3 separate regions of the Homo sapiens genome follow, and all the other regions are linked to region 1. Evidence: fine-mapped expression QTL. A gene starts in region 1. Each other region holds a variant in brackets. All regions are shown on one strand. Distances are between the middles of the regions.

Evidence for each region. PIP is the estimated chance that this variant, and not a neighbour inherited with it, causes the effect.
Region 2: its variant is fine-mapped to the expression of HUS1 in whole blood (INTERVAL, PIP 0.98).
Region 3: its variant is fine-mapped to the expression of HUS1 in lung (GTEx, PIP above 0.99).

What each region holds. Positions count from the first base shown.
Region 1 is chr7:47,978,521-47,981,283 of GRCh38, reverse strand. It overlaps HUS1 (HUS1 checkpoint clamp component), which reads left to right and starts at 1,669. Exons shown (of 8, transcript NM_004507.4): 1 at 1,669-1,816; 2 at 2,468-2,595; 3 at 2,691-2,763. The coding sequence starts at 1,765. RefSeq lists an enhancer at 1,599-1,888 and silencers at 1,959-2,018, 2,099-2,148.
Region 2 is chr7:47,955,521-47,958,283 of GRCh38, reverse strand. It overlaps a transcript of PKD1L1 not described here. Among named protein-coding and RNA genes, the nearest start is that of PKD1L1, 8.4 kb to the right of the region's middle. The variant A/G (reference allele first, on the strand shown) is at 1,368.
Region 3 is chr7:47,940,460-47,943,222 of GRCh38, reverse strand. The region is part of intron 2 of PKD1L1 (polycystin 1 like 1, transient receptor potential channel interacting); the gene reads left to right. Among named protein-coding and RNA genes, the nearest start is that of PKD1L1, 6.6 kb to the left of the region's middle. RefSeq lists a silencer at 737-1,031 and enhancers at 819-2,018, 1,411-2,034. The variant A/G (reference allele first, on the strand shown) is at 1,585.

The DNA of each region.
Region 1 (2,763 bases):
TGGCAAACACTCGCATATGACAATGAAGATTAGAATTTTGCTTCATGTTATAGTCTTAAAATAGGCAAAAACTGCAATTTTTGTATTTTGCACCTTTTTATTATTATTACACTTTAAGTTCTAGGGTACATGTGCACAACGTGCAGATTTGTTACATAGGTATGCATGTGCCATGTTGGTGTGCTGCACCCATCAACTCATCATTTACATTAGGTATTTCTCCTAACGCTATCCCTCCCCCAGGCCTCCACCCCCCAACAGGCCCCAGTGTGTGATATTCCCCTCCCTGTGTCCATGTGTTCTCATTGTTCAACTCCCACTTATGAGTGAGAACATGCGGTGTTTGGTTTTCTGTCCTTGTGATATTTTGCTGAGAATGATGGTTTCCAGCTTCATCCATGTCCCTGCAAAGGACATGAACTCATCCTTTTTTATGGCTGCATAGTATTCCATGGTGTATATGTGCCACATTTTCCTTATCCAGTCTATTATTGATGGACATTTGGGATGGTTCCAAGTCTTTGCTATTGTGAATAGTGCCACAATAAACATATGTGTGCATGTGTCTTTGAAAATTATCTGGGCCTGGCGCGGTGGCTCACGCCTATAATCCCAGCACTTTGGGAGGCCGAGGTGGGCAGATCACCTGAGGTCAGGAGTTCGAGACCAGCCTGGCCAACATGGCGAAACCCCGTCTCTACTAATAATACAAAAATTAGCCGGGCATGGTAGCTTGTGCCTGTAATCCCAACTACTTGGGAAGCTGAGGCAGGAGAATCCCTCGAACCCGGGAGGTGGAGGTTGCAGTGGGCCAAGATCACGCCATTGCACTCCAGCCAGGGCGACAGAGCCAGACTCCGTCTCAAAATCATCATCATCATCATCTGCATTATCATTATCTTGATTCTATGTGTCAAGTTAAAGACAAGGTTCTAGTCTATTTGCAAAGGACATTAAAAATAACAATTGTTAACACAGATAATCTTTAGTCTTTGAAAAACCAAATTAGATACAATTGTTGCTTCATTTCCCCCTTTAAAATTTTTCCTTTAAAAAAAATCCTAATGACATTATTTATGCTAATAAGAATTTTATCGGATGTAATAAAGTTCGTCTTGAGGCAAACTGCAGAATTATCACTTAACGTCAGTGTTCTTTAAGCTTCCCGACTTTACCAACTAGCCAGTAATATGTTCAATTTTTTTAGAAGTCATTTGAAACAATTTTCAGAACCTTAATCCACCAAGATGCTTCAATACCAAAGTACCAGTACCGTCATCTGAGGCTGGAGGGTTTAAAGCTGCTCTACCTTAGGTATATTTAAGATAATATTGTTTAACCTTTATAAACGATTAATTTTATTTGGATATTTTAAAATAACACTTGAAATAGGTGTCACAAAATTCTTTCAAAACGTGAATTCTCAGAACAACCTCCCCGAATCTGGGGCTTGAAGCCTCCGCCTCACTAAAAGTAGATCCCACCATTACCCGGCAGCGCGGAGGCATACCCGGAGACTGGGACCCCCACCTCCCCCGGGGCGTGACCTGTGATCCTTGACCCGTGACCCCACCTCCTCTAGGGCGTGACCCCCTAGCCCCACCTCCTCCGGGGCGTGGCCCGGAGATAACCCTGGTAAGAGTCGCGTAGCCCGAGCCGGGCGGAACCACTGTTCGCGCTGCCGTGTTTCCGGGCGGGGACACTCAGGGCGCGACGCTTTTCTGTTACCCACAGAGGCCCGCCGCGGCTGCGCCATCCGCGGCCATGAAGTTTCGGGCCAAGATCGTGGACGGGGCCTGTCTGAACCACTTCACACGTGAGCAGGGAGGCCGGAGAGGAGCGAGGGAGGAACGGAAGGAAGCAGTGAGCGCGCGGTGGGGACCGCGCAGGAGGATCAGAACGGGGATGGGCGCCGGAAGGGGCCGCGGGAGGATGGGGCCGGGATGGGGGTGCTGGTGTAGGCCGCGGGAGGGTGGGGCCGGGAGGGCGCGGGGCGGGTCGGAGGGCACTTGTGGGGATGAAGGCGGCTTTCAAGGGACGTTTCTGAAACTTGATTCCGATCACGTGGCTTTAAAAAAAAGCGGCCACTGCTCCCATAGACGGCTTTATCAGGCATTGACATACCTTCAAGGCCCCATTCGTCCCTCCACCCTGACAGTGCCTAACCTTGCATTTAACTGTGTATTGCAGTACCTAGTAGTCAATAAATCCATGTTGAATGAATGAATGACTGGTAGGTGCCTGTTTTCTTATTTGAACACTGATGATGTGTGCTGTACATCTCCCCTAGTTTGTTGGGAGAATTGCGTGACATCAGGGGTATTAAAGTACTTTCCAGTGTGATACCAACGTTAAGTGGTTATTTTTCCACCGAGAAGTTGATGAACAAGAAATTCTGCAAAATAAGTTGGTCTCTAGGATACATAATGTGCATTTTAGTAATTCCTTATTTTAACCCCTGCTTTAGGAATCAGTAACATGATAGCCAAGCTTGCCAAAACCTGCACCCTCCGCATCAGCCCTGATAAGCTTAACTTCATCCTTTGTGACAAGCTGGCTAATGGAGGAGTGAGCATGTGGTGTGAGCTGGAACAGGTGAGCAAAAGCTTCTGAGAGGCCTGCACACTCTGCAGATTGTCACTGGAAAGATCACATATACCCTCCCTCATCCCTCATTTTTTTTCCCTTAGGAGAACTTCTTCAACGAATTTCAAATGGAGGGTGTCTCTGCAGAAAACAATGAGATTTATTTAGAGCTAACAT
Region 2 (2,763 bases), 23 kb after region 1:
TGTGGATTTATTCCTGGGTTCTCTGTTCCATTGATCTATCTGTTTTTATACCAGTACCATGCTGTTTTTATAACTTTAGTTTTATGGCATATTTTGAAGTCAGGTATTATGATGCCTCCAGCTTTGTTCTTTTTGCTCAAGATTGCTTTGGCTATTCAAGGTCTTTTGTGGTTACATACGAATTTTAGGATTTTTTTTTCTATCTGTGAAGAATGTCATTGGTATTTTGATAGGAATTGCACTGAATCTGCAGATTGCTTTGGACGGTATGAACATTTAAGAAATAATTCTTTCAATCCATGAACACAGGATAACTTTCCATTTATTTGTGTCTTCAGTTTCTTTCATCAGTGTTTTATAGTTTTCATCCTAGAGATTTTTCACCATGGTTAAGTTTATTTCTAGATATATATATATATATTTTTTTTTAATTGTATTGTAAATGGGATTTTCTTGATTTCTTTTTCATATAGTTCACCATTAATGTATAGAAATGATACTGGTTTATGGCTGTAATCCCAGCACTTTGGGAGGCCAAGGCAGGTGAGTTGCTTGAGCTCGCGAGTTTGCCACCAGCCTGAGCAACATGGCAAAACCCTTTCTCTACAAAAAATACAAAAGTTAGCCAGGTGTGGTGGTCCCAACTACTTGGGAGGCTGAGGTGGGAGGATTGGTTGAGCCCAGGGAGTTGAGGCTGCAGTGAGCTGTGATTGCAACACTGCACTTCAGCGTGGGCAACAGAGTGAGATCTTGTCTCAAAAAAAAGAAATAATACTAGTTTTTGTTTGTAGATTTTGTATCCTGAAACTTTACTGAATGTTTTTTAGTTCGAACAGTTTTTTTGGTGGAGTCTTTAGGATTTTCTCTACTTATGATCGTGTCATCTGTAAACAGAGACAGTTAACTTCCTCCTTTCCGATTTAGATGCCTTTTCTTTCTCTTGCCTAATTGCCTAATTACAGCATGTTCCTATTCTGTAAATGTTCAATGAACTAGAGAATGATTCTTGGGTAGTTAATATTGTCAATGTTGATGAACTCTTTTCCTTCGCTGAAAGCAGCTACTTTGTTGGAGGTTTCAATTCTGCGTGGCAATTTGCAGCATTTCTAGTGGTACTGCTCCACATTTTACAGCTTTATGAAGAAGGTGTTTACTTTTTTTGAAATTACCTTGAGACATTTCAAACTGTGCAGAAGATATATGCACAAAAGCAAATGTCTTGCAGTTTGCTATAGCCACTTATACATCATCTGGCTCTTGAATAGCTTTAATTCAGCTGTTGAATCTCACTTGAATTTGAGCAAAACCTTCATCTTTATATGTATCTGGACAAATTACTTCAATTGCTTGACAGTAATGACCAATCA[A/G]TTTATTTAAAATAGTATCATTTAGTAGGACAGTGTTTTTCTCTGGTTTGAGCAACGAATTCAACCAGTCCTCTGGGTTGATCATCATCATCATCATCATTTGGTTATCAGTTCCTGAGTTATTTTTACCAGGGAGTTTTATACCTTTAGACAGCTATTTTGAATTATCTCAGGAATGTCATATATCTCTGCCTCTTTAGAGTCAGTCACTGGCACTTTGTCTGTTTGGTGACATCATGTTTCCCTGACTGTTCTTCATCTTTGTAGTTATACATTGATATCTGTGCATTGAATATGTAGGTATTTATAAACAGTCTTTGCAATCTGGCTTTGTCTGTGATTGTCCTTGTATAGTAGGTCTGTCCAGAAATTGTAAGCATACTGTCTTTTTTGGTCTTTAAGCCCGTGAACGCTACAGCCCGTGTAGTGCCAAATGGTGCCCTAAGCCCAGGTTCCCTGCAGTCCACTCTGTGATTTGTTTGTTGACTGCTGTGAGCCCCACCCCCATTCTTTGTTTCTAATTTACACCTAGCAGGCTAACCCTGCTGGCACCTGCAGTGCTTCCAGGGGGAAAGGACCATAGTGTGCCCCTGTGAAGAGTCTCAGAATGGTGCGGAAGGTGAATGCCCACCTCCCGCTCTCTTTTCCCACTGTAGAAACTGATTCCAGAGAAATTCTCCAAGTGCGGTGCTATGTGGGCTTGCGGGAGAGGTGTTATGATCAAACAGAACCATTCTCTTTACCCTCTGTTCATGGTTTTTCTTGGCTCTGTGGTCCAGTGAGTTGTCACAGCTTCACTCCCAATTTCTGGGATATTCAGGGCAATAATCTTGCCACTGGGTATTTGCTAGTTGAAATTATGTGGTAGGGAGAGAAGCCAGTAAGCTTCACTTCTCCGTTTGGCTGATGTCACTCTCGAATTCTGTACTTTCATACGGATTGTAATAGGGAGGGTCTAAAAGGAAGCTTCAGTTTTGGATTTTTAGAGCTTCTTCTAAGTACAATTGTTGAATCAAGAGGTAAAAATGGTATGTTATAACTGGAAATACGCTGAGATTAAAAAGGAGATAAATTAGCCCCATTGGGACAGTGCTATTGGGAATGTGAATTGATACCACTTTCCTGGAGTCTAGTTTAGTATTTATTTTATATGTAATGCCTGAAAAGATGTGTGTCTCCTTTGACTCAATACTTATAGGAATTTACACAAAGGTTATAATCAAAGATTATAGAACTGTTATACTGGAAAAACACGAAATATTCTAATTATGAATTAATTGGGGATTGGTTAAATAAACTATGGTTTGATATGCTCTAAAAATAATGTTACAGAAAAAAGTGTACTGATATGGCAAAATGTATGACTTATAGTTAAAAAAGCAGGTTAGATGTTGAT
Region 3 (2,763 bases), 38 kb after region 1:
CCACATGCCAGGATGGTACACACACATATATATATATATATATATATATATATATATATTTTTTTTTTTTTTTTTTTGAGACGGAGTCTCACTCTGTCACCCAGGCTGGAGTGCAGTGGCATGATCTTGGCTCACTGCAAGCTCTGCCTCCTGGGTTCACGCCATTCTCCTGCCTCAGCCTCCTGAGTAGCTGGGACTACAGGCGTCCGCCACCACGCCCAGCTAATTTTTTGTATTTTTGGTAGAGACAGGGTTTCACCGTGTTAGCCAGGATGGTCTCCATCTCCTGACCTCGTGATCTGCCCACCTCGGCCTTCCAAAGTGCTGGGATTACAGGCATGAGCCACGGCGCCTGGCCAGGATGGTATATTTTTAACTCCTTCACTGGGCCCCACCCCTGACTTTCTGCTTTAGGAGGTCTGGGGTGAGGCTGAGATCTGGGGGCCACACTTCGAGAACAACCAAGACTGTAAGTGGGGCCTCCCAGAGCCCAATGAAGGGAATACTTAGGTTACAGGAGGTGTCTGCATGGCCACAGGTGTGGGGTTTTCCTCCTCGTCCTTAACACAGAGAGTATCTCTGTTTTTAATTTTTAAAATGAAAATTCTAAAGTGTTGCCTGAAACGTAATTGCCAGGATTCCTTTAAGTAGAAGGAATTTTTGAGTTTTCAACTTAGGCTACACATTTGGTAGACCTGAGAAACGGATTTTTAAAATTAAATTTAAAAAAATTTTTTTAATTTCTAAAGAGACGGATTTAAATGGAGTGGGGGGGCGGGGGCGCGGGGCAGGAGGCGGGTGTGTGCCTGGCATCAATGTTGAAACAATGCAACGCCAATTCTTTTGCAATTCTTATGTTAAGATCATGTGGAATTGTTACCTAAATGCCAGGGGTTTGCCTGACATCCTGCTGCTGCTGCTTACGTACAGAGCATAATCATCATGAAGACTGCGAGGATTGCCAGGGAAGAAAGCTTTATCAGGTGCTGCAGATGAGGAGAAGGGAGATAAAGTCTCAAATATATCTCCCCATCTGACTAAAACTTGGGGGTTTATATAGCAGGGAAGACGAGAAAACAAAATTAGAGAGGGGTGAGGAAGCAATCTGAGGAATGAGGGGCCTGGCTGGATGCAGGGATCTGGTGGGTCCCTTTCCTGGGTTGGTTTCCTGAGGGAAGAACTCAGATGAGATGGATGTTAAGTTTCAGGTTTTAAGACTAGGAGAGTCAGTTTCCATGTTTATTCAAAAAACCTATAAATATCACTTCTGTGGGACAATTAAGCCAATTTCAGGATTAGTTTCACTCACTTAGTTTATTTCTCCTTTTGTGACATACTTTATTCAATTTTGCAATTTTATGTACTTTTTATGATTTTTTATTTATTTCTTTCTGTTCAGGGGTATATCCACTTTTTTTTCCAGATAATTTGAGCACAGTGACTTTGATGACTAATTGGTTTCAGAGAAATATGAGTCACTTGACTATTCTAGCTTATTCCGAAACATTTTCTAAATATTTCTTCCTCTCGGATGTGTCCAGTTCAGGAAATTACTTCATACCTCAGTTGGTGCATCCAGCCTGC[A/G]TGGGTGCTCAATGGCACTCGATGGCATTTGTAGCACGTCACATATTAGGCCAGGAACACGGCCTTTGATTTTTCCTCAGCTTTTGTTATCACAAGATATTAATACACTGGACTCTTGACAGTAAATAGTGACTTTGACTCACAATGTTAAAACTGGATTTGATATTGTCCTAGGCTAAACTTGAGAGTGTCCTGGGAGGCTAGGGGCAAGCTGACTGCCAGCACCACTGCTGGGGTGCAGGGATTGGAAGCCACATCCCCTGTGAGGATGGCCCAGCCCTGGCCTGGAGCTCCTGGAGAACCTGCTGCTCTCGGCGGCCTGCAGGCCTTTGGGTTCCTTTTAGCCTGAGCAAAGCTGGCCAGAATAACAGACTGGGGTTAAGAGAGCCCAGGCAGAAACAGGTTTCCTTACAGGGACTCGGGTCTGACAGAAAAGCAGCAGGGTGCTCCAGTCCCCTCTTCACCCGCCACCCCCACTTCCTTCCCCTCCTACCTGGGGATGAGAGGGGTGGGGGCTTCAGGGAAAGCAGCTCTTGCACCCAAGGCAGTCGCCTGGCTTCTTGCTGAGAGTGGCTCTGTGCAGGGCCAGGTCTAGCAGAAATATTTTCTTTTAACTTTTATTATGGACATTTTCAAACATCTGCATGAGTAGAGAGAATGGCATCACAAACACTCAAGGACCTGTCATCGCTGGCAACAGTTGTCAGCTGTGCGCAGATCCTATTCCAGATGCTCTCACAGACATGGGATGTGGCAGGGCCCTCAGCCTCCCAGCCGGGTGGACACTGGCTCCGCTCACTGCCCGGCCTTCAGCCCTCAGAGATGGGAGGAGTGAACGTCAGCCAGGTCCGTGCTACCATCAGGGCCAGATTGCCTGGGTGGGAACATCCTGCTTATAAACTTTGGAGTGTCTTTAATGGTCTTCCTGTTTGTCCAACAGCTCCCCAACCACTCCTTCCGACTGTGGTGTTGCCCCCTCTACTACACACCCCTGAGCAGGACCTTTGACCCTCATTATTTTATGACCAGACCACTGGGTGTTTCTGGAACAGGCATTCATTATCAGCGTGGCTGGTGGTTGTGCGTTTCCTCATATTGCTTAGTGTGGGCTACACCTAAGACATTGTTTAAGCAAGGAAATAGAAAGAAAACACACACAGCAGGACACGGCAGCCCAAG